2 separate regions of the Homo sapiens genome follow, and region 2 is linked to region 1. The links come from fine-mapping of genetic effects on gene expression. A gene starts in region 1. The other region holds a variant in brackets. All regions are shown on one strand. Distances are between the middles of the regions.

Region 1 (15,353 bases):
AAAGACTGCTTCCTTGGGTCAAGTGATCCTCAGGCTTGAATCATCCAGGCAAGAGTGGGTGTTCCATTCTCATTGATCATCAAATAGCAGTTTCTGACTAGTTTTAGAGTTTTCCAATTTTCTTAGTCCGTGTCCTTGGTGTTAATTAACAAGAGCAGTTTTTACAGATTCACATCAATATAGAAAAATGTAAAAAGAAAGTTTTGACTGAAGCAGGAAGAGACAATAGATGTGAAATTCTTTTTTGTTGTTGTTGTCTTTTTTTTTTTGAGACAGGGTCTCACTCTGTTGCCCAGGCTGGAGTGCAATGGCGTGATCATAGCTCACTGCAGCCTCAACCTCCTGGGCTTAAACAATCCTCCTGCCTCAGCCTCCTGAATAGCTGAGACTACAGGTGTGCACTACCACACCAAGATAATTAATAGGTGTGACATTCCAAAATAAGTTGTCAGAGCAAGAAGCAAATCTTAAAAGGAAATATCCTAGCCCCTTGGTGACTCTTAAAAGTGCCTCACCCAAAATAGGATCATAAAAGGGCAGAGGAAGTGGAGTTCAGGAAAGAATCTATGAAGATGTTTTCTCTGAAGAAAGCAATTCTGTTACTCCTGCTTCTTTGAGACCTTTCTCCTTAAACTCACTAGAGAGGCAGTGTCAGTGAGGCAGACCATGAAGGCAACTTGATTTGTGTCCCCTGGTATTTGGAGACAAATCTCAAGTGGAGAGGCTGAAGATACTGGCTTGAGGCAGCAGTGGGGCAGTGGTGGAGAGAGAGAACACTGAAGACCAGTCTGCACACAGCCAGCTGCACTTTTACCAACCATGGGCGTAAAGTATGGATGAATGTCTGAAGGACCAGATAACAGCTGTTTGTTAAGAGACAGCTGGGCTGAAGGAGTTTAAATCCTGCCTACAAGGATCACCTGGAGCAGCCTAGCGACCATTTCCCTTCTTCCCCTGCAACAGGAGACTATAAAGTGACTGGCAGGGAATGAGAAAGCGAGGGGAAGTGTTAGAGAAAATTGCATTGCTCAGGTCAAGAGAAGTGGAGTTGGATGTTTCAAGTACAGGTCTCTAAGAACCCAAGAAAAGACCCAAGAAGGAAGCGCACATTTTAGTCATTGTCCAGGCTTGGAGAGCAACCCCTGCTAGCAATGCACCAGTTAAGCATGAACTTGCTAGTCCTGGACTCTTCCCCCTTCTTTTTGCAACCTGAATTTGAAGGGGATTCTAGGGGGATAGAGAGAAGGATCCTTTCCCCCTTTTTGGAGTTCCATAGCTTGGCTGCATGGGACCCTTTCTGGGGAAGCAGAGGGAAAGTTTAACTGTGAATGAAGCTTGAAAGTGTTGATCAATGGCATTTACATTAAAATTAAAGCTGTATATTGTGATTTAAACTGACCAAATGATTTTTATTACCTGTGAGCAATCAGAAAAATTTCGGGATCACCCAAGTTTTCATCCAGGGGTGGGGACAGATGTCCTCATACGGAATGCCTGTGGAAGGGATGGTGGCAGATCGAGGTTTGCCATCTGCTTCCCTTCACGCCTCTGTCCTGCTTGTTCTGCAAGCTGGTCTCATCTGAGCCCAGAGCAGCAGGCTAGTTCACTGACACTCATAGATTTGGCAGGAGCATTTGCTCTTTGAATACATTGATGTCAGGAGGTACACTTCAGATAGGGAAACAGGAAATTACTAGAAGACCTGAACAAGAATGGCAACTTGAAACTGGAACACACAAGGGTACTGGGTGTCTGGAAGCCAACTGAAGTAGAAAGATTTCCAGAGAATGTGGGAAATTACCATCCAAGCCTTCGGCCTTGGCCTCTAGGTCTCCAGTTTACTATAAACAGCAGGTGAAGACTTTCAGTAACTAGAAAGGAAGCCTCATTGACTGGCGATTGAAAATGTCAGGGGTGCAATGAATGCGTGTCTGGTAATCTGCCCAGTGTGTCTTCTCTGGGAAACCTCTGCTCATAAACAGGGATGGGCCCTGGCAGCCATACTGGTCCCCTGCAGCCCCCATCATCTATGATTAGGGTTAGGGTTAGGCAGGTGATTTAGTCCTTGTGGGTGCAGCTCTGGAACATCATTTCTCTGACACTGGGACATAGGAGCCAGGGGCTGGTTATCAGAATAGGAGAATAGAGCACAGGTGTAGAGAGAGCACCTGCTATGGAAAAAAATTCCATTGAGTTCCTCCTGGCTTTTCAGGTCTGCGATCTGGGTCTTCCTGAGGACTAACTTATTTTTGCCTTTGGGTTCTATTATACATCTATCTAATCTATCAATCAACGATCTATTATCTATCTATCAACTATCTATTATCTATCATCTATCTATCAACTATCTATTATCTATCATCTCTCTCTCTCTCTCTATCTATCTATCATCTATTTTAGAGACAGGGTCTTACTCTGTTGCCCAGGCTGGAACGCAGTGGCAAAATCTCTGTTCACTGCAGCCTAGAACTCCTGGCCTCAAGCAATCCTCCCACCTCAGCCTCCCGAGTAGCTAGGACTACAGCTGCACACCACCAAACCTGGCTAATTTTTAAATTTTTTGTAAAGATGTCTTGCTATGTTGCTCAGGCTGGTGTTGATTTCCTGGCCTCAAGTAATCTTTCCACCTTGGCCTCCAAAGTTGTTGAGATTATGGGCATGGGCTACTGTATGCAGCCTCTTCTGTCTATCTAATGAATTTCTGTCCTCTATTAGGGTGAAGAGATAGCTTTTCAGTGGCTTTGAAGCATTGTGCCAAATATTTCAAAGATCACATTTTAAAATCTACTTTTTGATTTATTTAGTTGCTGCAAATTTTGACTTATCTGTCACTAATCAGCTGGATGTACTGAGATACTTTGACATTTCCTAATGTCTGGTGCTTTCTCTTTCTGGCCCTCCATAGTGAGGGCTGGATCTCTTCCCTTATAGGTATCTGCTAATGCTGGAGGCTCAACTGATAAAGTAAAGATAGCCATCCCAAGAAGCAGGCGGAAAGGCTGGGGCTAATAGAACAGATCTCTACTCCAGGGGCTTCAATTCTGCCCTAGTTCTGGTCAAATAGGATTAATACTGCTCACCGTTACTATCCTAAAAGGGCTGTCATGGTTGAAAGTGGGCATTTACTATTTTCAGTGTCTTTTGTTGCTGGAATAAAGGAGATGATAATATGAAACAAAAATCAGGTTGCTTCTCCTCATATTTTGCTCAGCTCCCAAGCATTCAGAATGTCGTTACTAATTAGACATTTGTTTCAACATTCTGGGGCCATCCAGGCTAGGCAATCTTGTGATGTGGGGAAAGTTGACTGGTTATGCAATGGCTTTGCATTAGATCCCCTGCTCCCTTGCAGGCGCTGAATGCTCTTCTGTTGTTCTCTGGATCTAGAACCCTGTCCCTTTTCTCTGGGATGGCTCCTACTGATGTTTCAGCTTATTCCTCATTTGCTGCAGGACAGTCTCCTTGGCCCCATAGTACTCTTGATTTCCCCATCACCTGTGCAGTAATAGTTTCTCTATAGATCCACCAGTCTTGTCTTATTCATTGTTATATCCACAGATCTAACCTATTTCTAGTAAACAGTAGGTTCTTCCTAGATCCATTCCTGATGATTGGCTTAATGAATGAATGCTCATTTTACTGGTGACTCTGAAAAAGGAAAAAAAAAAATAATGATTTTACTCCACTATCAGCAACTCGATGTTGCCCGTCAGGAATCCTTGTAACAAAATACAAAGTTACCATTGCCTACGAGGTCCTCACCTCCTTCTCCAACCTGTCTAGTAGCACTCTCCTTATGCACCATGATACCCATGCTGGCTTTCTCTCTGTTCCTGCTATACATCACTTTTCTTCCTACTTCAAGTCCTTTGTTCTTGCTATTTTATCTGCCCTGGAGTTTTGCTAAGTTGGTGTTTTCTTATTTAGGTGGTGCCTCAAATCTTAGAGCATTTCTCTTAGATCATTTCTCCTTAAAGCATTTTTCTCCTTTCCCAAAATTAAGTGTGTCTCCCATCCCTCTGGTCACTGTTTTCTTCTTTGCCCTGATCCCGGTCTGGAAGTTTATCTTTTTATTGGATCATTGTCCATCTTCTGATAAAAACAGCTGCAAGTCTGTCTTGTTCAAGGCTATACTCTGAGTGCTTAGTAGAAAGCCTCGTTCATTGCAGTATCTAGTATTTGATGATTAATATTGATTACGTTTGATGAGTAAATGAATAAAAGAATAATCTTAGACATACATTATTTAATCCCAGTGAAAGAATGTTAGTGATGGAATTTCAGGTGTTATTGTAGAAGAAACTTTTGAAGGGTATTCCCTACAGTTTGTTCATACTAGGCTAAGTTCCTCTTCTTTTCCTTACACAATGTAAAAATATTAGATCTCAAAACTATTTGCTCAAAGTACTTACTTTAGGACACGTATTTTTAGACTACAGTTTAGAATTACAGTTATTATTAGAAAGGTTTGGTAAAAACTCTTTTTGTTAGGCAATAAGGTTATTCTGTCCTCCAAAGACCTTTACTTTATTCTCAGGAAGTAAGAGAGAAAAAAGAATTTCTTGTCTTCTTTCTATCAGGTGTTTTGCCCTTACTTCTCTTTAAGTTTATGTTTACCTTAACATTCCTTTCCTTCCTCAGGTTTGCTTTTTGTCTATCTCCATTTTTCACTATTACGTAATTCACGGAGTTGCTGGGGGGAAGTGCTTAATTTCAAATAGCCTGTTTTAGAACTTTGCGAGAATGACAAGAACAAACAGAATGTTAAGGCAGCTAGAGAGAGTTAAGTGAGAGTGGTCCCTAGGTGAGAAATGCTTCTTGCCTTCTAGGCTGACACCAGTTCTGGGGGATGTGTTCTGAGAGCTCATATTAACTGCAGGTCATTGATCCTTATCTCAATCCCCTTCCTCTCCCTTCAGCTTTCCATTCAAAGTCTCTATCACATCTTGAAGTGTTGTCACATTATTTTTTTTCTGATGATTCCCTCCATCAGCTGAGCTTTCCAATTTATATTACCTGATTTTTTTTTGTCTTCTGCTTTTTACTACCCCTTTTTCTAAAGCTTTATTGATTGTGTACTTTGGATTCTAATTCTTCCTATAAGAGTCTTCCTGTAATTCTGTTTGCAGTGTAGTGCTGTCCACATTATGTGTTGGTTACATGATAGGAAGGAGTATGGGGGCACCTCGGTCACATATGTAAAGTTCTTTAAGAGAGCTGAAGGGCGCTGATACCAGTTCATGTTTTTTCGGGGTAGCCCTCAGATATTAAGCATGTTTACTGTATTTTCTTCTATTGTGAAAGAATCAGTTCTCTGGATTTCCTTAAAGTTTGTCTTTACCATTCTCCGCACCCTACTCATTTTTCTATTTAAGAATTTTTTTTTCTAATCATGTAGTACATGTTCAATATGGAACACAAAAAGGTAATAAGAAAAAGTCACCTACAGTGTCGCCAAAGGTGAAAACACCTTATGTCTTTTTTCGTGCATAACAATATCCCTCTCAATCTTATGCAGCATTTTTAAACCTAGGAGACTTGTCTGAATCCAAAGGAAGTTAAAGATTACGTTATTCACCAAGTTCATACTGAAATCAGAGAATCGCAGCGGCTTAAGAAAACTCGCATCTGGCGAATGAACCTGCGTATCCGGGGTTCTCCTCAGGGAGGTTGCTCGTCCATGAAACACACTCCAGTCTGCAGCCACCTGGGAGTGGGAACCAAGGGCGAGCGAACCGGGCGGGCAGGGGTGGAACTTGCGGGGACTGCGGGTATGAGGAGGAGCTACAGAGCTGTCACCAATCAGAGCCCAGCTTTGTTTTCTCTTGCCGACCAATGAGGGAGTTCTGCTGGAGAGGCGTCTTCAAGTCTGAGACGCCTATCGCCTTCGCAGCCTATCAGCAGGCCCCTCTTACCCGCGGGCGGTGCAGCCCCGCCCCGCCCCTCCAACCGCGGTCCCGCCCCTCCGAGGGTGGGGGCCGTGTTGGTTACTAGCCGGGCTGGAGGCGGGGGCCGGGCTCCCACTGGGCTCGTGCGTTCTGCGCCCGCCGCGGCGGTGCCGAGCCCGCTGGCTCCCGATTGTCCTCTGCGGCGGTGGCGGTCGCTGCCTCCTTGCCTCCGGGCCCGGGGCTGCAGGGGCCAGAGCGAGTGCGCCTCCTGCCCGCGGACCGCGGCAGCCCAGAGCAGGTAATGGGGCGCCTCTGGGGAGCGCCTGTCGGAGCCCAGGGCTAGGCTCGGGCGGTGGGGTCGGCCCCCGAAGCTGCTCCCTGCGCCGGCGACCGGGCCGAGCGGTGCCGCGGTCCTCCGGAGCCTCCTGCCGGCCTCTAGGCGCCTCAGCCTGGGAGCCCGCGGCGGGCACCTTGTGAGGAGGTGGGGGCGGGGCCGGGGCAGGGGCGGGGCCGCCTCGGGCGGGACCCTGAGGACCCCTGGAGACCCCTGTTGACGCGCGGGACTCCGGGCGGGGGCGGCGGCGGGGCAGACCCAGAGCGGGGAGAACCGACAGGTGGAGGAAAAACTGCGGAGTTGAGTCAGAGTCCGGCTCCCCGGGGAAAAGAACCGACTGAAAGGGAGCGATAAGCTGGCTGGCTTCTTTTTTTTCTTTCCCTAAGCCAGAAAGGCGTCTTCACTTGGGTCGTGTTAATTACATGTTTTCTGAGAACAGGCGTTTGGCCGTGTAATCTACACGATAGCATTATTTATTTACTTATTTGCTATTTAAAAAATTAAAAGCAGCATTTAGCGTGAATCTATTTGGGGGCTTTTTCTTAAGTGACAGGTAGACCCAGCCGAGTAACTCAGCTTTGTCTGGGCTGAAGTGGGGAGCGGTGAGGTAGGAATGAGGGGGAGGAGTGTTCGTGAGGAATGCCTGTGCAGGTTTGAAAGGATTGTGGGGGTGGGACCTTGTTTCTGTCACTGTGCCATGGGTGGGAGTAGAATTGTGATTTTTTTCTTTTTCTAATTTTTAAAAGCAATATTCACATTTAAAAAAGGGGGGGCTCTCTAAAAACAGTCTCTGTACTCGAGGCTTTGGGGATGCACCTGCTAGTCAGGCAGTAATAGTTTGCAGGTAAATCCTGGGCTATTAATTACGTAATTTGATTTACTTATAAAGAAGTATCTTGAATTGTTGCTGCCTTTCCTTTGACTTGCTCAATATATTGCTTGTTTACAAGTGAATTGATGAAGGTCACTGAGTTTTAGCGGTAATGTCACAGCGATGGCCCTTGGAGAGTTTTCTATGCTCAGGTTCACTCTGGTTCTATAAAAACAGTATTTCCATTTAATCGTGAAGCTCATAGCACTCTATCAATTATATAGTATGCCATCCTCCTACTCTTCTGAGGCAGGCTGTGCATAGCATGTCCATTTTACAGGTATGTCAACTGAAAGCCCTAGAAATGAAAGGAATCCTGCCCCACTTTACTCCTACTTTATTTTATACCTATAATGGATTTAATCCAAAATCTGGGTAAGATTCCCGCCATCAAGCCAACTTCTGCATACCAATTTGATCCCGTATACACAGGTCAGAGGTGGAGATGGTTATTTTCAAGTAAAGAAATATTATCTGCGAGGTTTTTCTTTCCATTCAGGTTGCTTAGCTAGTTTGAATTTCAGGTGAAAGGTAATTTTCCACACAGGCAAAACAAACAAAAGTTAGGAATGCTGTGTGAAAATCTCTATTTTAAATTTTGGGAAGCTTTCCAAATTAGAGAACCTTATTTGTGTTTGCATCTCTAGCTCAGCATTGAATTTCGGTACCTTTTTTTGAATTGAATAGAAATAATTGATATGCAGAAGGAAAATACTAATGAAGTGTAATGCATTTTGATCATGACTTATGACTTTGTTTCGGGAAGTGTTTACTGTAAATTTATAGACGGATTGAAGAATAATTTCTTAATTAGAATAACTTGACCAAAGGAGTTTGGGCATTAGTGTGGGACAGGCTGAAATGGGTAGTTGGGAGTAGCCGCTTGTATGATGTTAAGGCTTAGGGAATTCTAGAGAATCGTTAGGTTTTGTTAAATTTACTAGTTATCAGGAACATGAAAATGTCTTATGGATTACTGAATGGAACTCTTTTTTTTTTTTTTTCTGAGGTGGAGTCTCACTCTGTTGTCCAGGCTGGAGTGCTGTGGCTCACTGTGATCTCTGCCTCCCTGGTTCAAGTGATTCTCCTGCCTCAGCCTCTTGAGTAGCTGGGACTACAGGCGCATGCCACCACGCCCAGCTATTTTTTTTTTTTTAATATTTTTGTAGAGATGGGGTTTCACTATGTTGGCCAGGCTGGTCTCGAACTCCTGACCTCAAGTGATCTGCCTGCCTTGGCCTCCCAAAGTGCTGGGATTACAGGCGTGAGCCATTGCACCCAGCCTGAATGTAACTGTTCTAATCATGAAGTTATCTCTTGTTTTGTGGCTAATACCTCTGTTTCACATGTACATTTTAACATATTCATGTAACATATAAGGCAACTCTTCTTACACAAGGCTGTCACTCTAGCCCAGCATTTATTTACTTATTTATGTTTTAGTGGCTTTATTTAACTTTTACTCTCCTGTCAAAATTTCTAGCACCCAAGCAAAAATTTCCATAAAGGAACTTTTATCATCTGTTGATTATACAGAAAATGAATCATTTATTCTCATAAGCCCAGCCCTCTTGCATTGTGGGACACTGGAAAGATATTTTGGCTGTTTGTAAAGTATTTGCTTGTATTCTTACCTGAAGCTTTGACTTCTCCCCCTCCCCCAATGGTTTTCAGAGTTTCTGTGACTTTTTTCTTTAAATTAATTATGACACTACCTGACTTCCACTAGATGGTGCACTGGGGGGCGCTTACTGGAGATTTCAAACAGATTTTTGTTTTTCCTTGTTATAAACATTTCACTGACAAAGATACAAAGGTACTGCAGCTGTTTCTCTCCTAATTGCAATTCAGACAAAATTGTAATGAATGACTTAAGTCTTGAGTTTTGGCCAGGCATGGTGGCTCACGCCTGTAATCCCAGCACTTTGGGAGGCCGAGGCGGGCGGATCACAAGGTCAGGAGATTGAGACCATCCTGGCTAACACGGTGAAACCCTGTCTCTACTAAAAAATAGAAAAAATTAGCCGGGCGTGGTGGTGGGCGCCTGTAATCCCAGCTACTCGGGAGGCTGAGGCAGGAGAATTGGCCTGAACCCAAGAGGCAGAGCTTGCAGTAAGCTGAGATCGTGCCACTGCACTCCAGCCTGGGCCACAGAGCGAGACTCCGTCTCAAAAAAAAAAAAAAAAAGTCTTGAATTTTGTTAAATGAGATACATTCGGAAGGAAAGGGTATTCCTTCATTTTGAATTTAAAGTGAAGGAAATTGTTAGTCAGGCTTGCTCTCTGAAGATACTGTGTTTTTTACAAACTGAAGGTTCGTTGGCAACCCTGCAAGTCGATTGGTGCTATTTTTCCAATAGTGTATGTTCATTTTGTGTGTCTCTGTCATATTTTGGTAATTCTCACAATATTGCAAACTTTTCATTGTTATTCTGTCTGTTATGGTGATCTCTGGTCAGTGATCTTTGATGTTACGATTCTAATTGTTTTGGGGCTCCATGAACTGCACCTATATAATATGGTGAACTTAACTGATAAATGTTACATATGTTCTGATATCTCCACCAACTGGCCATTCCCCAACTCTCTTCCTCTCCCCAGGCCTCCCTATTCCCTGAGACACAACAATATTGAAATTAGGCCAATTAATAACTCTACATTGGCATCTAAGTATTCAAGTGAATGGAGAGTCGCGTGTCTCCCACTTTAAATCAAAAAGCTACAAATGAGTGAGCTTAGTGAGGAGGTCATGACAAAAGCTGAAACAGGCCAAAAGCTAGGCCTCTTGCACCAAACAAGCGAGCTCTGAATGCAAAGGAAAGGTTCTTGAAAGAAACTAAAAGTGCTACTCTGCTGAACGTCCAAATGATAAGAAAGTGAAACAGCCTTATTGCTAATATAGAGAAGGTTTTAGTGGTCTGGATAGAAGATCAGACCAGCCACAACATTCCCTTAAGCCAGCAGAGCAAAACCCTCTCTTCAATTCGATGAAGGCTGAGAGAGGTAAGGAAGTTACAGAAGAAAAGTTGGAAGCTAGAAGAGGTTGGTTCATGAGGTTTAAGGAAAGAAGCTGCTTCCCTAATGTAAAAGTGCAAGGTGAAGCAGCAAATGCTGATATAGAAGCTGTAGCATGTTATCCAGAATATCTAGCTAAGATCACTGATGAAGGTGGCTACACTGAACAACAGATTTTCAGTGTAGATGAAACAGCCTTATATTGGAAGAAGATGCCGTCTCGGACTTTCTTAGCTAGAAGGAAGTCAGTGCTTCACCTCAAAGGCCAGGCTGACTCTTTTGTTTGGAGCTAGTGCAGCTGGTGACTTTAAGTTGAAGCCACTGCTCATCTACCATTCCAAAAATTGTTAAGCGTCATGCAAAATCTACTCTGCCTGTGCTCTATAAATGGAGCGACAAAGCCTGGATGACAGTACATCTGTTTATGGCGTGGTTTACTGAATCTGTTAAGCTCACTGTCGAGACCCACTGCTCAGAAGAAAGGGTACCATTGAACAAGTGCTGCTCATTGACAATGCACCTGGTCACCCAAGAGCTCTGATGGAGATGTACAAGGAAATTAATGTTTTCATACCTGCTAACACAACATCCACTCTGTACCCATGGATCTAGGAGTCATTTCAACTTTCAAGAGTTATTATTTAAGAAGCACATCTTGTAAAGCTATAGCTGCCATAGATAGTGATTGTTCTGATGGATCTTGGCTAAGTAAATTGAAAACCTGGAAAGGATTCACAATTCTAGATGCCATTAAGGGCATTTGTGATTCAAAGGAGGAGGTCAAAATGTCACCATTAACAGGAATTTAGAAGAAGTTGATTCCAGCTCTCATGGATGACTTTGAGGGGTTCAAGACTTCAGTGGAAGAAGTACCTGCAGATGTGGTGGAAATAGTATACTGAGAACTAGAATTAGAAGTAGACCCTGAAAATATGACTGAATTGCTGCAATCTTATTATCAAACTCGAATGGATGAAGAGTTGCTTCTTCTGAATGAGCAAAGAAAGTGGCTTCTTGAGAGAGAGTCTATTCTTGGTGAAGATGCTGTGAGCATTGTTGAAATGACAATGAACGATTTACAATATTCTGTAAACTTGGTTAATAAAGCAGTGGCAGGGTATGATAGGATTGACTTCAATTGTGAATGAGGTTCTACTGTGGGTGAAATGCTACCAAAAGAGAGATCTTTTCTGAAAGGCAGAGTGAGTTGATGTGGCAAACTTCATTTTTTTTATTTTTTTGAGACGGAGTCTCGCTCTGTTGCCCAGGCTGGAGTGCAATGGCACGATCTTGGCTCACTGCAACCTCCGCCTCCCAGGTTTAAGAGATTCTCCTGTCTCAGCCTCCTGAGTAGCTGGGATTACAGGTGCACACTGCCACAGCTGGCTAATTTTTTATATTTTAGTAGAGATGGGGTTTCACTCTGTTGACCAGGCTGGTCTTGAACTCCTGAGCTCACGCAGTCCACCCACCTCAGCCTCCCAAAGTGTTAGGATTACAGGCGTGAGCCACAGCGCCCGGCCTTATTGTTTTCTTATTTTAAGAAATTGCCACAGCCATCCATCTTTCAGCAGCCAGCACCTTGTTCAGTCAGCAGCCATCAACATCAAGGCAAAATCCTCCACCAGCAAAAAGATTATGACTCCCTGAAGGCTCGGATGATCACTAGCATTTTAAAAAAATTATAAAGCATTTTAAAATTAAGAGCTAATGCTATTGCCAACATAATAGACTACAGTATACTGTAAATATAACTTCTATATGCACTTGGAAAGCAGAAACATTTCTGTTACCTTATTGCAGTGTTAGTTTTACTAAGGTGGTCTGGAATGGAACATGTGATATCTTCAAGGTATGCCTACGATTTCAGAAATAACCTCTCCTATTGAACCCTCTGATTCTTCCTGTGTTCAGAAACCCAGACCAAAGTGTAGATTTATTGGTCTTTATTTATGAGTAGTTGAATTTTTTTAATGTCTTGTGTTTTGTTTAAATTTTATGTAAACTGCGGCTTAGCTCTTTCAGCATAGTCTTATGCTTTGCTTTCTTAGATTACTGAGTCTTTAAAAGAACTGGTAAAGTGCATATGTGTGGAAAGATTATTTGCTACCTACTATGAACAGATACTTAAGTAAAAAAACAAAAACAAAAAAACCCAAGATGTTTTTTCCAGGCATATAAATGTTTTTTTCTTGAAGAGGCATTTAGTCTTTCTATTTACTAGAACATTATCAGCTTGCTTTACTTATGAAAGAGAGGAGACCATTCTTTTCTCTGTGAATTTAGGAGCTATTTGTCAGGCTTGTTTATTACTGATTGGGTTGCTTGTTACTGATTGTTAGAGAAGGGAGATGAAAATACATAGCAGTTGCGATATCCATTTTGGGTATAGAACTGGCAATGTTAGTGGAGATTAAAGACTAGCTGGTACGACTGCATTTTGCAAGATATTTTGAAGACAACTTTGGACTTTGAAAATGCAGGATAGGAATCTAAGTGAGAAAGTCTTTCAGTGGTTGGGGTGTGTGTGTGTTCACTTCAGTTGCACTGAACTGTGGGTGGGGAGGAGAGCAATAGTAAATTGTTTCTTACCAGAACACTGCCAGTTCTTAGGGGATTTGGTGGAGATTTGGGAGAGAGAAAATAAATAGGATTCAGCCCTTCTAGGAAGGTCATTCTTGGCAGTGCCTTCAGCCCTTAGGAGAGCGTGGGCATGGAAAAGGTGGGTGGTTGTAAGTAGCCAGGCAGATTAAAAGGCTGCTTCCTAGAGTTTTCTTTACCTTTGATGACCTTAATCAGGTCATTAAGCATTTTAAGACAGGTTTATAGCTCTCCTGTGGTCCAAGCTTGGACTAAGTACTCCTTAATCTTCAATTTTATGTTTTAAATTTTTGGAATAAGTAGAAACCTGAAATTTATAAAATTAATGACTTGAGTATGCGAGTGAATAGCTTCAGAGAGTTATTTGGCTTATGGAAGATTTCAGATTATGGTAGGTGCTTGAATATACTTATTTCTCATACTCTTTCTTCCATCCCTTTAACAACAAAAAAAGGCCTTATTAGAAATAGGCAAACTTGAATACACATAGAGCTGTACTGCTCAAATTGAGTACTTGAGTTGGGGAGAAAAGTCTCCCGGTCTAGATATAGCTTTGAAAAGAGAAGGATCAGGTAGGATGCCGTACACGGCAGGTGTGTGCAGGGACAGGGATAACGTTAACCCCTTTTGCTGTGAATATTGTCAGAGGGTCTGATGTGTAATTAGGCATTCCTTAGCTTCACTCCTGATAAAAACACACTCTTGGACAGTTTCTCTGTATGTGCACTTAAAGCAGTTTGAATCTTGTTAATCAAATATTTCTCGGGGTTGTAACTTCTTTTTTTGGCATTGGGAAGACTGTTGAAGTCATGTTGTAAAAATTTGGAGTTGAGCCTGGGATCAAAATTTGGAGTTATGGCCCAAGATTTATCAAGCTTCTGCTGATATTCAAAATATTGTTTTTTTCTCTTCCTATTATGGCTTCTGATTACTTCTGAAGAGTGAGTTCAGACCTCTGTGCTCTAACGCTCATCAGAGTACCCTTTTTGTACATAGTATAATCAGGATAGAGATTAGGCATTTTGTCAAGTTTGGGAGAAAGAAGTTGAGCAGTGAGGAAATGAACTAACACTGTTTTCGTTTCTTCATAGTCATTTTAAATAGGATACAAATTTTATATTTTAGAAGTTTCAAAATGGTAGTAATTTCACCTTTCACATTATGCTTAGTATGAAAAATTTCTACCAGTGGTTCTCAAACTTTAGCATACCTTGGGATCACACGGAGGGCTTGTGAAACCTTAGGCAGCTGCCTTCCAGCCCCAGAATTTCTGATCAGTCGGTCTGGGAGGGGAGGTCCTGGCGATTTGCATTTCTAATAAGTTCTAAGGCCATGTGCTACAGCCACTGCAGGGGCCAGCCACTCTAGGGGGAAACGTAAGTGTAGTGGTTAACACTTTGAAAGACCTGGGTTTGAATCTCTGCTCTGCTGCTTTCTAGTACTTTGACTTTAGGCAAGTTTCTTAACCTCTGTTGTTCCGTCTCTAAAGTGGAAATAATATAGTATTTTGTTGTGAATGTAAGTGGGCTCCAATGTGTAGAAGCTCAGGGAACAGGGCCTTGCAGATTGCAAGCATGCAATAAATGTTTTCTTTTATCCATAAAAACAGTACGTATATAAAATAAATAGGATCCTGCATCTTATACAATTGAAGCAAAGACAGAAAATTTAATACTTAACCTCATTTCCTGGCACTGTGCTGGGGAAAAAATATGATTACTCAATTACTTTTTAAGGAGTGAAGGAAAAGTTTGTGGATCCTAGTAATTTTCCAGAAACATTTTTTAGAGGCATAGCACATTCATATCGATGCTGCCTCCTCCCTCTTCCCCTTCAAAAAGTTTGCATTCTTTAATCACCGTATGTTGGACTCTCACAATAACCCTTATAGTTTACATTTTATATAACAGGTATTTTGAAGGTTGCTTCTGGGAGCTGAATGACAGGAAGTACCTGAAAGTCATCTTTAGAACACACTGTCGCCTGTACTATGACAACTTTGTATTTGATGACCTTGAACGCAGTTCTTCTCGAGACGGAGTCTTGCTCTGTCCCCCAGGCTGGAGTGCAGTGGTGTGATCTCAGCTCACTGCAGGTTCCACCTCCCGGCTTCACGCCATTCTCCTGCCTCAGCCTCCAGTTTAAAACATATTTAAACTGGACTACAGGCACCCGGCTAATTTTTTTGTATTTTTAGTAGAGACAGGGTTTCACTGTGTTAGCCAGGATTGTCTGGATCTCCTGATCTCATGATCCGCCCGCCTCGGCCTCCCAAAGTGCTGGTATTACAGGCGTGAGCCACCACGCCCAGCCCTTGAACGCAATTCTTTGGGATCTCATCTCTCGGCTTGCTGAATGCCTGGTTCATTTTCTTTCTGCAGACCTGCGGGATCTCACCTCTGGCTATCCTTTCATTAGTGAAACCCTCTTTCCATCACTTTCTGTCACTATCACTGTCTTACTTGTTAGCTGTTAACACTCTCTTATCATTATCTTATTTGTTTCCTTTTTATTGTTTCCTTCACTAGGACATAAACCCTATGAGGGTAAGGGCTTGATCTTTTGCTACTCGGTCGCTAGGATGGGATGCAGTTCCTGGTATGTAGAGACTGAATACCTGCTGGTTGGGTGAAGGGACCTGTGAC
Region 2 (15,353 bases), 73 kb before region 1:
CTGAGGAACACTTGGTTTGCAAAATATGAAACTTTTGTTGAGCAACATTTATGACAGGCAAGGTTTAGAATTTCATGCTATAAGCCTATGGCTTCTTCATTTTCCATAATTAAATAACTTCTGAGAATGTGACTTCTCAGAAGGATGCATGAGAATTAAAACCAGCAGCTCTCAAAGATCAGATATCCACAGTTAAGAAAAACCCTTGAAATAAACACTTACATGGGTCAGTTTTTCCTTCTGACAAACATTGGCTTATTTCAACCTAATAGAATAATTAGATAATATCTAGCTTATTATAGGATTGTAATAGATTATTATTTTTGGCAAAACGACATCAGATAATATACACATGCTTCTTTAAGAGTTTTTAAAATAAAAAAATTGTAGAAATTAGTAAGTAAAAACTAGGCGCTTTCAATACAAATGTCAAAAAATGAAGGATTCTGATTTGTATTTGTTAGAGTCACTCATTAACGTCTCATGTATTTAATACATTAAATATTTGCTGGGTGTTTATTCTGGGATGAGCATGAGGGGACGTTGGTCTTTTTCCTGTCTCTGGACTGGGCTTTACACCATCGATTCCCCTTGTTCTCAGGCGTTCAGACTCAGTTTGGAAATACACAAGAGCTTTCTTGGGTCTTCAGTTTACAAACGGCTGACTTCTTAGCCTCTATAAGATCATGAGCCAATTCCTCATAATAAATCTCCTTCTTTCTGTCTCTGCCTATATCTATCTACGATTGGCTCTATTTCTCTGGAGAACCCTAATACAACCAGACACAAAAGGACAAATATTGTATGATTCTACTTATATGAGGTACTTAAGAGTAGGCAAATTCATAGAAACAAAAAGTAGACTAAAGGCTAGGCATGGTGGCTCATGCCTGTAATCCCAGCACTTTGGGAGGCTGAGTTGGGCAGATTGCTTGGGCTAATGAGTCTGAGACCAGCCTGGACAACATAGTGAAACACCATCTCTATGAAAAATACAAAAATGAGCTGGATGTGTTGGTGTGCGCCTGTAGTCCCAGCTACTTGGGAGGTTGAGGTGGGAGGATCACTCGAGCCCGGGAGGCAGAGGTTGCAGTGAGCTGAGATCACGCCACTGCACTTCAACCTGCGGGACAGAGGAGACCCTGTCTAAAAAAAAAAAAAAAAAAACCAGCAGATTAAAGGTTATAGCGGCTGTGGGGAGAGGAAATGGAGAGCTATTGTTTAATGTGTACAGAGTTTCTGTTTGGGATGATGAAAGAGTTCTGGAAATGAATATGGTGAAGGTTGGTTGTGTAACACTGTGAAGGTACTTAATGCCACTGAGTTATATACTTCAAAATGATTAATTTTTCTTTTTTTCTTTTCCTTTTTTTTTGAGAAAGGATCTCACTCTGCCCAGGCTAGAGTGCAGTGGCGTGATCATAGCTCACTGCAGCCTCAGACTCCTGGGCTCAAGCCATCCTCCCATGTCAGGCTCCTGAGTAGCTAGGACTACAGGTACCACCACCATGCCAGCTAATTTTGTTTTTACTTTAATTTTTATGTATAATAGACACAGGGTCTCGCTATGTTGCCCCGGCTAGTCTCAAACTCCTGGCCTCAAGTAATCTTCCCTCCTTGGCCTCCCAAAGCCCTGGGGATTATAGGTGTGAACCACCGAGCTCTGCCCTAAAAATTATTTAAATAGTAAATTATATATTATGTATATTTTACCACAATAAAAGAACATTTTTTTAGGCTAGGCACACTGACTCATGCCCAGCACTTTGGGAGGCCAAGGCGTGAGGATCAGTTGAGCCTAGGAGTTCAAGACCAGCCTGGGCAACATGGTGAGACCCCATCTCTACAAAAAAAAAAAATTAGCTGGGTCTGGTGGCATATGCCACTGTGCTCCCAGCTACTTGGGAGGCTGAGGTGGGAGGATGGCTTGAGCCTGGGAATTTGGAGCTGCAGTGAACCATGATCACAGTACCACACTCCAGCCTGGGAGACAGAGTGAGACCCTGTCTCAATAAAAAGGGGGTTTAAAAAAAAGGCAGAAAAGTTATAAGTGTTCATAGGAGAGTTCTGAGCAAAAGGAACGACATAATCCAAGGCTCAAGGGGCAGGAAAGATTGAGGAGGATATATTTTGGGAGAAACTTTAATCTCAGAAAAGCTCCCAGTTACCCTGACATGCAATTTTGGCAATGCAGGCTGGCAGGGTGATGGGGCAGATCTGGAAGAGAGGTTCTGAGGCAGCAGAGCCAGGGCTCAGCGCGGACACTTAAGTAGCTCAAGTCCTGCGATCTCTAGGACCCAGTGTCCTTGGGCATGGGTCAGGTCGTTCAGTGAGGTCCAATTCAATGAGCAGAGTCCTATGCTTCGGAAATTGAGTTGTTAGTCTAATACAGAAGTCAAGAGGGCTGGGAAGGATCCAGCTTGAACCTGGCTAGACTTGTGCAGAACACCAAGCCATCATTTCTGCCAGAAAAACGTGAAGAAAAATAGAACACAAAGAGCAGAACGAACCCACAAACTAGGCAGATTGCTCGTCTGGAAGAGGGTTGGCAATGCTCTGGAAGGAAGGCTCCCTCCTGACTTCCTCCTGGCTCCCTGGCTCCCAGCACTGACTGACAGGGAAGGCTACTGGGCAGGGCCATGCTCAGGAGCACAGGAGATCTGACCAGGCCAGTGGACTTGGGTCCCTGAGAAGCATAAGCCAATCCAAAACACTCCAGAAGTTGGGTGCAGGCTGCTGATGTACCTCTGTCAGGGCTACCTCGCCACCTGAGGAGCTGCATGGAACTAGAAGAGACCAAGGCAAAAGAAACGAAATGAAACTGATAGGATCATGGGAAACATACAGGGAAAAAATGGGAGAAAAGGTTGCAGGGAAGGTTAGGGCCAGCTTGCGGACAAATTCAATGCCAGGCTAAAGAGCCTGAGTAGAATTCCATGACTAACAGGAAGGTAGAAATCTCTTGAATAGAGAAGTGATATAAAGAAAACATTGCCTTTAAAAGATTCATCCAGACTGTGTGCGGTGGCTCACACCTATAATTCTAGCACTTTGCGAGGCTGAGGCAGGCAGATCACCTGAGGTCAGGAGTTCAAGACCAGTCTGGCCAACATGGCAAAACTCGGCCTCTACTAAAAATACAAAAATTAGCTGGGTGCAGTGGCGCTGCCTGTAGTCCCAGCTACTTGGGAGGCTGAGGCAGGAGAATTGCTTGAACCCAGGAGGCGGAGGTTGCAGTGATCCGAGATCATGCCACTGCACTCCAGCCTGGGTGACAGAGTAAGACTGTCTCAGAGAGAAAAAAAAAAAAAAAAGATTAATCCAGCATGTAGGATGGTTATAAATATAAGAGTCTATAAGTAGGTGGGAGAAAATAATAGCCAGAACTAGAATGGTGAAGTTGAATGCAAGATTCAGATGTATAAGTTATTTTTTTGTTGGAGAGAGGGAAGTATGCCACAATTGTATTTCCATGTTTCAATTGATTGCAGTCACTTAAAAATAAAATGTATTAATTTATTTTTCATTATAACTATTATACCCATAATAGGAAATTTGGAAAAATAAAAAAAAATAGAGGATAAAAAATAAAATTGTTCTCAGTCCTTTTTGCACCAGTATAGCCACTATTGATATCTTGGTATATTTCGTTCTTGTCTTTTTTCTTTACCTAATTATTTACATTGTGTTTTGCTTGTGTGTTTTACTAGTTGTGATTATGTTATGTATACAATTTTATATCAGTTTTTTTATTTAACATGGCCTTATTACGTAATAAGAATTAAGAATACAGACGTCGGCTGGCCATGGTGGCTCACGCCTGTAATCTCATCAGTTTGGGAGGCCAAGGTGGGCGGATCACGAGGTCAGGAGATCGAGACCAACCTGGCTAACACGGTGAAAACCAATCTCTACTAAAAATACAAAAAATTAGCCAGGCATGATGGTGGGCACCTGTAGTGCCTGCTACTCGGGAGGCTGAGGCAGGAGAATGGTGTGAACCCAGTAGGTGGAGGTTGCAGTGAGCTGAGATTGTGCCACTGCACTCCAGCCTGGGCGACAGAGCAAGACTTCATCTCAAAAAAAATAATAAATAAATAAATAAAATAAAAAATAAAAGAATACAGACATCTATTAAGAATACATGGCAGAACCAGACTGCCTGGGTTCAAATGCCAACATCTGCCATTAACTAGCTGGGTGACAACCTCTCTATGCCTCAGTTTACTTAGCCATAAAATGGTAGTAATAATAGTAGCAGTCTCATAGAGTTGTGGTGAGAATTAAATGTATTACTATATGGAAAGCCTTTGGCATCTGGCATATAGTAATTATATGTGTTGGGCATTTTACTAAGTTATTGTAAACGTGTGTTGGAATGGTTTGAAGATTTTCACTCAACATAGAAAGTAGGGAAATTTACAAAGAGTGGTGGTGCCCTTAACATTTACAGGAAAGAAGGAAGGATGGTTTGGAAGGTGGCAGGAATAGATGTGGGTTTAATTGTATCAAATTGAAGTTACAGGCAAAGAGAACAGGTGGAAGTATCTAAGAGGGCTTGAGATACAATACAGAGATTCAAAAGAGAGAAGTTATAACCAGACATCTGGATTTAGGGAACATCTGTCTACAGGTGACAGTTCATATCATAAGAAAAAAAATGAGATCACAAAAGTGTTGAGTTCAAAACTTTGGAGAACACCCGCATGCAAAGACTGAAAGACGGAAGTGGAACTAGGAGAGATGGAAGAAGAGGTAAAAAATCAGAAGAGGAAATGAGAAAGATAGGGAGGGTGTGATGGAGTTTGTTCATGGAAGCCAATTGATGTGGCTGAATCTCACAGTGTAACACCTTTGAACCCCTGGAGTCCTAAATGGGCAGTGGGCAGGAGCCTCTCCTCTGACCTCTTCCCCTTTTCCAGGGCAGAGCCTGGAAGGGGAGCATTAGAACACAGAATCACCCAGCCTTACGCCTTTCTCTCCTCTTCTCACAGTTCCCCACCCACTGCCCCCTTCTCCTGCTTCCTGGCTTGGTCCCCTGGAGCTCTGCTAAACCTTACATTGCTTAGGGCTTTCTCGCACAATAGACCTTTGTGAGCTGATTCCATAGAGCCTAGCGGATTAAATGCAGGGATGGAGGTGGGCAAGAGTAGGGGCTACAGGGGATGACCCATGACTCTCTTTAGAAATTGTTGCCATTCCTTTGATGACAACCATCTTTTCTTCTTTTTGAGACAGGATCTCACTCTGTTGCTCAGGCTGTAGTGCAGTGGCACAATCACGACTCACTGTAGCCTCTACCTCCTGGCCTTAAGCGATCCTCCCATCTCAGCCTCCCAGATAGCTGGGACTACAGGCACACATGACCACGCCCAGCTAATTTTTGTAGTTTTTGTAGAGACAGGGCTTTACCATGTTGCCCCAGGCTGGTCTTGAACTCTTGGGTTCAAGTGATCTGCCCGCTTGGCTCCTCAAAGTGCTGGGATTACAGGCATGAGCCACCATGCCCGGCCTGCTTTGGTGACAATAATCTTAATCTCCTTCCAGGTTTACAGATCCCTCAGGACAACTAAAGCAAGGGTTCATGTACTAAGCAGGGCAAAAACGTGGCATATTAATTTTTACGACAGTGCCTCGTAAAAGAAGGGTATATAATTGGAGGTACAAAGTAGGGTAAAGGCACAGGAAAAGAGGCTTGGAAAAGAGGAATGACAACTTCTAAATATAGGGAAGACTGAACATACCTCAACATTTTGAAGCAGAGGAGGTCAGTTGGAGGAGTGGCTGTGAGATGACTCAGCGGGAGTGTGGACAGACTTGAAGTGGTAAAGTGCAGGAACCCTGGAGACAGGCATTTGGGCTTGAAATTCCAGTTCAGCCACTTTCTATCTGTGATGCCTTAAGAAATGTCCTTAATTTCTGTATCTCAGTTTCTGTGTATGTTAAAAAAAAAAAAGTGACATTGACATAATAATATCTACCTCATGGGCTTGTTATAGGGATTAAATGCATTACTATATCTACATGTGAACTATATTTGCTCTAGATAATTAGGTAAAGGTGTGATAGGTGACCTTGGCAAAATGCAGGGGGTGGAGGCAGAAGAAACTCCATCCAGCAATTGTTGACAGCATTTCAGGCAGCCAGAAATTTAGCGCTAAGGAGACTCAGTGCCTGCTTTATTTTTCTCCGGTTGCCTTATCACCAACTGATTATGATTTTTTTTTTTAACGTTTTTTTGTGTGTGGGGGGGAGAGAGAAACACATGTATTTTAAAAGTCTTCACTGTTCTGAGAATCTTTTTGAATGAGAATGAGATAGTTCCTTTTATCTTCTAGAATCCAAATAAATTCTTCGAAAATTCTTTCTGATATTATTGCACATCTAGATGGGTTACTTCCCACCACTTTACCCCCTCTCTCTCTCTTCACTGGAAACTATAATTTCAGTAGTTGATTGAAAAGTTGATCAGCAAAGCCACATAAATGAAGAAGGACTTTTGAAATAGCCTCCAAATATTTTTCTGGCTAGGCACTAAGGAACACAGTTGACAGCTGTGTAGTATTTTCTGCTACAGGAATAACATTCCAACATCAAGTTAAAACTAATGCAACAAAAATATTCAATACTAAGAGAAAGTCACATGGCGGATTGCACCTTTAAAAAAAAAAAGTGTTTTTAGGCCGGGCGCGTTGGCTCATGCCTGTAATCCCAGCATTTTAGGAGGCCAAGGCAGGCAGATTACTGGAGGTCAGAAGTTCGAGACCAGCCTGGCAAATATGGTGAAACCCTGTCTCTACCAAACAAACAAAAAACTAGCCAGGCCCAGCTACTTGGGAGGCTGAGGCAGGAGAATTGCCTGAACCTGGGAGGGGGAGGTTGCAGTAGCTGAGATAGTGCCACTGTACTCCAGCCTGGGTGACAGGGACTCCGTTAAAAAAAAAAAAAAAAAATTTCAAGTAGCATTTAGCTGAGTTCCAGAATAAAATTTCTCCTGTGTGCAGACAGAACTTGTGTAGTTGTAAGGTCTCAGAAGGGTAAGTGCACCTGAATGGTGAAATGCTAACCATTTGGAAATATATTGATTATGAATTTATGTATTATGCATTATATTATATATTTATATATTTTATGTATAATACTTGTACCTATATATTTATATCATAATTATAATTATCAGCCTTCCACAACTAAAATGTAAGTTATCAGAGAACAAGGATTTTGCTCTGTTTTATTCACAATTAACACAATAGTTTAAAAAGTAAATGACTAA[T/G]AGAATACATTAACTTGTAAGGAAACTTGTTTATAATTGAGCCTGAGTTCCACAAGATGCCAGGGTAGCTTTGGAGGGGCGGATGGGATGGGGTGGCGGTGCAGGAAGGGCTGTGGGGTGAGGTGGGGTCTGTGCTGGGCAAAGAGAGGGTGGATGGAGAAAGGGAGGAAGCCAAGGGTAGGAGTTCAAGCTACAGAGATGGAAACTGTGTTCTCATTGGAATGTTCATGGGAGGATTTAGTGGGACCCAGGTCAGGGAAATACATTCCTGTTTTGTTTTTTTTTTTCCAGTTTTGTATCTCTTCTGCTGTTAATTTTTTGAAAATGTGCATTTGTCTATTTTAAAATATAAATTGTCCATAATGGTCTCTTATTTGTCTAATCTATTCCAATGATTTTGATTTTTTTCTTACAATTTTTCTTCTTTCATTTATGTTTTTCTCAGTGACAATTTCATAAATTAGACTATGTCGATGGAGGAGTTTTCTTATTCAAATAACTCCATTCGAATGTATTTGTTTATTTAAATGATGGCCTGGTTTGTAATTTTTCATTCATAAATTCTTTCTTCTGATATCTTCAAGATTTTATTCTTTCCTTTTCTTCTTTTCTAGAGTCCTGATGTGAGTGTTTGATAATTTAACAGACAAAATAACTGTGTGGCTCCTGAAATTGGCCTTTTTTGGGGGTCTCTTCAGAGGCTTCAGGGAGAGGCAGGGGACCCAGGGAGAGGTAGGGGACCCAGGGAGAGGCAGGGGACCCAGGGAAGAGCAGGTGCTGCTAATTTCCATCTCTTTTGCCTGGATTTTAAAATGGCTCACAATGCCAAATCCTAAACTATATTCTTTCAAACATCAACCACCTTGGAATTGCCCCCTTTTGGAATTTTAAAATACGAGCTTGCTTTGTTTTCTCTGCCACCTTGCCATGACCTCACCCAAATGCTGTCTCCAGATTTCCCACCTAGGTTTTACAGGCAGAATATATATATATATACATACATATATATATACATATGTATATATATGTGTGTATATATATGTGTGTATATATATATATTTCTTTTTTTTTTTTTTTGAGACAGAGTCTCACTCTGTGGTCTAGGCTGGAGTGCAGTGGTGCAATCTCAGCTCACTGCAACCTCTGCTTCCCGGGTTCAAGCAATCCTCCTGCCTCAGCCTCCCAAGTAGTTGGGACTACAGGCGTGCGCCACCATGCCCGGCTAATTTTTGTAATTTTAGTAGAGATGGGGTCTCGCTATGTTGCCCAGGCTGGTCTCAAACTCCTGGACTCAAGCCATCTGCTGGCTTTGGCTTCCCAAAGTGCTGAGATTACAGGCGTGAGCCACTGGGCCCAGCCTGCAGGCAGAATACTTTATAGTGATAGAAAGTAGCGACCCTGAAGTTACATAATTCCAGGTTCACATCCCAGTTCTGCTACTTCCTCGCTGCATGACCTTTCTCTGGTTATTTAGCCCAAGCCTCAGTCTCCTCACCTGTCAGATGAGGGTCATGATAGCACCTGCTTCAAATAGCACTTCCGAGCATGAAAAGAGATGGTGTATGTCAAAGACCTATCACAAAAGGAATATTTGCTAGTTTGTTAAGCTTTTCTAGGGGCTTTTACATACAGGGTTGTTTCTTGTTTTGTTTTTTGTTTACGACAGGGTCTTGCTCTATTGCCCAGGCTGGAGTATGGTGGCACGATCACAGCTCACTGCAGCCTCAAACTTCTGAGCTCCGGTGATCCTCCTGCCTCAGCCTTACAAGTGGCTAGGGCTACGGATGTGCACCAGCACACATGGTGAATTTAAAAAAAGGTTTAAGAGGCAGAGTCTCACATTGTTGCCCAGACTGGTCTCAAATTCCTGGCCTCAAGGGATCTTCCCGATTCAGCCCCTCAAGTAGTTGAGATTTCAGGCGTGTGCCACTGTGCCCAGCTCTACTTCAGGTTTTTAAGTGTCATCTCACTGCCCAAGGGATTAGCTATTATTCTCAGTTCATCGTGAGGAAAGACACAAAGATACTAAATGCAATTTCTGCAATTAACGACTAATTAGTGACTAGAATTTGAGATTCCTTATTCCCAGACGCGTTGCTCTTTCTAAGGCGGCAAGTTAGCTCTTGGCCAAAACTGAAAATTAATTATTTTTTTTGCCCGTAGTGCCCAAACACCCCTCCTTACATTCTCTAATTCTTTCCCTGGGTCTTTTTCGTCTCTCTCAAGTCTTAACAGATAACACTTAACATGTTCTCCCTCCCAGAAGCATTTGGGTTATTTTTTTAATTTTTAAAAATTTCAACTGTTGTTTTAGATTTGGGGGTACATGTGCAGGTTTGTTATCTGGGTATATTGTGTGATGCTGAGGTTTGGGGTACAGTTGATCCCATCACCCATGTAGTGAGCATAGCACCCAATAGTTTTTCAACCCTTGCCCTCCTCATTTCTCCTCTCTCTAGTAGTCCCCAGCATCTATTGTTGCCATCTTTATGTCCCCATATACCCAATGTTTAGCTCCCACTTACAAGTGAGAACATGTGGTATTTGGTTTTCTGTTCCTGTATCAATTCACTTAGGATAATGGCCTCCAGCTGTATGCATGTTGTACAAAGGACATGATCTCATTCTTTTTTATGGCTGCATAGTATTCCATGGTGTATATGCACCACATTTTCTTTATCCAGTCCACCACTGATGGGCACCGTTTGATTCCATATCTTTGCTACCATGAATGGTGCTCCCAACAGCATTTGTCTTTTATCAGTGAATTCTTTAAAAATCAGAAAGCCTTCAAGAGGTGAAGAATGAACATCTAAAACAATTCTTAAGGCCAGGAACAGTGTCAAACAAGGGGCCTTCTCAGGGAGTGTACTTTTTTATTATATCTTGTGGTCAGAAGAATAATGCCCCCGAAAGATGTCCACATCCTAATTCCCAGACGCTGCCTTGTCACCGAATGTGACAAAGGGACTTTTTAGATGTAGGATCTTCAAATGGCGAGCTTATCCTGGATTTTCCTGGATTATTCAGGCAGACTCGGTGTCATCTCAAGGGTTCTTATAAGAGGGAGGCAGAGGGTCTGAGTCAGAGGAGGCAACCTGATGATGAAAGCAGGGGTGAGTGTGTGTGTGTGTGTGTGTGTGTGTGTGTGTGTGTGTGTGTGACAGAGAGGGAGAGAGAACCCTTTGACGGTGCTGCATTGCTGACTTTGAAACTGGAGGAAGGGTCAAGGAGTCCAGGAATCCAGGCAGCTCCTAGAAGTCAGAAAAGGCAGGTACATGAATTGTCCCACTGAGCTTCCAGAAGCAATGCAACTCCTGACACCTTGAATTTGGGAGTTCTGACATCCAAAAGCATAAGATAATAAATTTGTGTTGTTTTAAGTCACTAAGTTTGCATTAATTTTTAACAGCAGCAAAGGGAATCCAATACACATCTTACAGTCCATCTGTGGCCAAACAGATTCAACTTTTCCACCATTCAACTATTTGCAACACCTACCAAATGGTTCAAAGCAGCATGGTGCTGCACACCTCTTGCAAAATGAACTATATGATGAGAATTAACTAAGAGTTCAAACTTGAAACCATTGGCTTGGGGAATGATTCGATCAATACTAGGGGAGATATAACAGTATGGAAAAGATGCTGTTGATTCTGGCCAATGCATATTGCTGTGCAGTTTGGGCCCAGCTGAGAGTGCCTGACTGTGGGGGCAAATGACAGGTGAAGTCCAGGCCAAGCACCATCTGCCAAGTAGTGCACCTGGTCATGCAGCGGCCTTTGCCTGGAGGAAGGAACACCATTTTCTAATTTGCCCAAAGGCACCAGATGGACTAGCAACAGTCCCAGAAGACTTAGCATGGTTCTGCCAAGGACTGAGGGTGTGAATTCAGGTTTGCTACCACTTATCATTTTGGATAGAAGCTACAATTAATTAGGTAATTCACTTCTTTGGCATTCAATTTCATTGCTTAAAAGGGAGACTTCAGGTGAAATGAACTCATTGTTACTAACTCCACTCCAGCCCTGCATGCCTTCTTGCTGTTCCTCAAGCACATACCTCCTACCCCAGGGCCTTTGCACTCACTGTTTCCACTACCCACCACCTGGCTTGCTTGCTTCCTTCCTTCATTCCTTCCTTCCTTCCCTCCTTCCCTCTTTCCTTTCTCTTTCTCTCTTTCTCCCTTCCTTCCATCCTCTCTTTCTCCCTCCCTCTCTCTTTCTCTTTCTTTCTTTGGGCCTTGGTTTGTTGCCCAGAAGGGAGTGCAGTGCTGTGGTCATAGTTCACTCCAGCCTCAAACTCCTTGGCTCAAGTGATCCTCCCACCTCAGCCTCCTGAGTAGCTGGGACTACAGGTGTGCACCACCATGTCTGGCTAATTTTTTTTTTTTTTTTTTTTTTGAGATGGAGTCTCACTCTGTCACCCAGGTTGGAGTGCAGTGGCACAATCTCGGCTCACTACAACTTCCGCCTCCCAGGTACAAGTAATGTTCCTGCCTCAGCCTCCCGAGTAGCTGGGACTACAGATGCGCACCACCACATCTGGCTAAATTTTGTATTTTTAGTAGAGACCTACTGACCTCGTGATCCACCTGCCTCAGCCTCCCAAAGTACTGGGATTACAGGTGTGAGCCACCGCGCCCAGCCCCTGTCTGGCTAATTTTTATTTTATTTTTTTAGAGATGGAGTCTTGCTATGTCGCCCAGGCTGGTCTCAAACTCCTGGCCTTACGTGATCCTCCCACTTTGGCCTCCCAAAGTGTTGGGATTACAGGCATGAGGGACTGGGCCCAGCCCTAATAAATATTTCTTGAAGGCATAGACTTTTCTTCTTATGTTAAAACTGACTTCCACAATAGGATGCTTCGGCGTTTCATGTTTTGTGTATGTGAGTGTAATTTTGCTCCCTGGTGGGGTGTAAATTTACTTTCTGAGGCATGGGGGTGAAGGTGACAGTGACTAGTATATTGCTTCAGGATGTGTTCTGGCCCCTTCTTATGGTGTCACCATCTTCTAGGATGTGGCCAGAGCACGGTGAGGTATGTAACAAAATGAAACCTTTTGCTTAAAATCAAATTGGCCAGCAGGGCGCGGTGGCTCACGCCTGTAATCCCAGCACTTTGGGAGGCCAAGGCAGGTGGATCACAAGGTCAGGAGATCGAGACCATCCTGGCCAACATGGTGAAACCGTCTCTACTAAAAATACAAAAAAATCAGCTGGGTGCGGTGGTGCACACCTGTAGTCCCAGTTACTCAGGAGGCTGAGGCAGGAGAATGGCTTGAACCCAGGAGGTGGAGGTTGCAGTGAGCTGAGATTGTGCCACTGCACTCCAGCCTGGTGACAGAGTGAGACTCCGTCTCAAAAAAAAAAAAAAAAAAAAATCGGTCAAAGTACAATATTTGCTTCCTACTCTGCTCATCTTCACCTGAAAAATCTACAGATTCTTCAGATTGCAAACCCATGCTTACCAAAGATAAATGCTTGCACTTTGCATGAATTTGAAAATGTATCTCTTATTTTTCATTCAAGACTCCAAGTTGGCCAGACAGGATGACTCATGCCTGTAATCCCAGCACTTTGGGAGGCCAAGGCAGGTGGATCACATGAGGTCAGGAGTTCAAGACCAGTCTGGCTAACATGGTGAAACCTCGTCTCTACCAAAAATACAAAAATTAGCTGGGTGTGGTGGTGCGTACCTGTAATCCCAGCTACTCAGGAGGCTGAGGCAGGAGAATTGCTTGAATCCAGGAGGCAGAGGTTGCAGTGAGCTGAGATTGTGCCACTGCACTCCAGCCTGGGCTAACGAGCGAGACTCCGTCTCAAAAAATAAAAATAAATAAAAATACAAAATAAAAATAAAGACTCCAACTCAATATTTGGGGAAAAAAAGCCACTTTTATCCCTGTCTTTGACCCCTTAATCATTTTTCCTTTGCTGGACCTAGTCCTGTCTCTCTGAACTCTCTGCTGCAATTTCCTGACACTGTGGCCCAGGTCTGGGGAGCTCTTTGGGTGGGGCTGAATGCCGAAGCTCACTCACCACTTCCCTTCTTTTCAAAAGAAGCGAAAGTCTTTCTAGTTCCTTCGGTTTGGGTACTTTCTTTAAGTATGTGCCTGAGTAGACAAGTCATCGTATTTCCTGATTCTGCTCACTGAAAGTAGTTTCTACTTGTGTGCAGGAATAGCTTCTAGCTCTGATGCTTAATTCTTTTGACTTAAATATCCCCATATGGTGGGAGGTCTAGAGAGGAATTTATACCACTGAGACTCTCACTATATATATTTTTTCTGTCAGTTACTCTTGTAAGCTGTGAGTCTTTAATGATTACCATATGCACAGGCCCATATGGTCTGAGCCTCCACTCAGCACGTGTTCCTTGATCATAATGTCACAGAGCAGTGTGGCTTTTCCTGTGAGCATTCTGTGCAACATAGCATGGTGACAGATACCTTATCCGGAGTCGCCATTTTATTTTTTCAACGTTTTCAGTGCGTCTTTGGAAACACTAGCCAGCCACTTGTAGACACGTCAAGTACAGATTCATATTTGAAATATCCTGGGTAAATATTTAAAGTATTTCTGTGCCAAGCAAAGTGGCTCATGCCAGTACTTTGGGAGGCTGAGGCGGGAGGATCAGTTGAGGCCACGAGTTTGAGACCAGTCTCGGCAACATAGTGAGACCCTGTCTCTACAAAAGTAAAAAAATTAGCCGGGCATGGTGCTGCACCTGTAGTCCCAGCTATTCGGGAACCTGAGAAGATGACTTGAGCCTGGGAATTGAAGGCTGCAGAGAGCCACGATTGCATCACTGCACTCCAGCCTTGGCGACAGAGAAAGAACTGTCTCAAAAAACAAAAAACAAACAAAGTCTCTCTGTAAGTTTGTCTGTCCATGATACGCAGGGAAATTCAGAGAGGAATTTGAATGTAACTTTTATCTCTGTAAAACAGTAGCATTCCTTCTTTCTGGCCATACTAAGGACCTGTTCCCTAAATGGCTGGAGCCCACGTTAGTTTGAATTGCTGCGTGTGAAGCAAAAATGCAATTTCATTATCCGAACAAAACAACTTGGCTTCATCGTGGGAAGCTCGTTAATTTCAAATGGAAAATAATCAACCCAGAAAAGGATGGGTGGGCTTTTTCTTCCTCTTTTTCCTGTAAACTAGAGGAAAATGGTTTTTGGCTGAAAGATAGCTTGGCAAGAAGCTTGACTCTTCAAAAGGAAGCCCCTGTAGAGAGCAGATAGGCTCTGACAGTGGGGGGCACAGGTCTGTGTCCATTTGTCACACGATTTTGAAACTGGCAGGGGTGCCCCTGCTGCTTATATCACAAGAGGGTTTCCACAAGGCACGTGTTCTCCAGTGAGGGTTCTCAGTAACTCATGAGCCATTTGCGACTCGGTACAAATTCCCAGGGGCCCAATCTCTCCTCTTTTGCCTGCTCCACCTAATTCTAGATTAATGTCATGGGTGGGTGAGAAGAAAAAGAAAATTATAAGACTTTCTATCTATTTTTATTTTTATTTTTTATGACACAGGGTCTTGCTCTGTCACCCAGGCTGGAGTGCAGTGGTGCAATTATGGCTTACTGCAGCCTCAACCTCCCAGGCTCCAGCTATCCTCCCACCTCAGCCTCCTGAGTAGCTGGAACCACAGGTGTGCACCACTACACCTGGTTAAGTTTTGTATTTTTTGTAGGGATGGGGTCTTGCTATGTTGCCCAGGCTGGTTTTGAACTCCTGAGCTCAAGCAATCCACCTGCCCAAGCCTCCCAAAGTGCTGGGATTACAGGTATGAACAGTCACGCCCAGCTTCTAGCTATTTTATTTTAGATTCAGGGGGTGCACGTGCATGTTTGTTACATGGGTGTGTTGCATCCTGGTGGGACTGGACTTCTAGCTTACCCATCACCCAAATAATGAACGTTGTACCCTTTAGCTTTTTAAATAGTAACAATGAAAGCAAATCTGAAAACCACTGGATTATACACCCCAGTCTATAAAGATAGAAGCAAATTATATGTAAACACTGCATACATGTTGGGGATCAGCAAACGATACCCCAAAATATGGTGCTTTG

The links. PIP is the estimated chance that this variant, and not a neighbour inherited with it, causes the effect.
Region 2: its variant is the best candidate, but not a certain one, in a credible set for the expression of MPP7 in left ventricle (GTEx, PIP 0.69).

Annotation. Positions count from the first base shown.
Region 1 is chr10:28,293,694-28,309,046 of GRCh38, reverse strand. It overlaps MPP7 (MAGUK p55 scaffold protein 7), which reads left to right and starts at 5,983. Exons shown (of 17, transcript NM_001318170.2): 1 at 5,983-6,186. It overlaps MPP7-DT (MPP7 divergent transcript), which reads right to left and starts at 5,878. Exons shown (of 2, transcript XR_930772.3): 1 at 4,618-5,878; 2 at 2,776-3,648. RefSeq lists a silencer at 5,797-6,436.
Region 2 is chr10:28,366,349-28,381,701 of GRCh38, reverse strand. No RefSeq gene overlaps it. Among named protein-coding and RNA genes, the nearest start is that of MPP7-DT, 71 kb to the right of the region's middle. The variant T/G (reference allele first, on the strand shown) is at 7,274.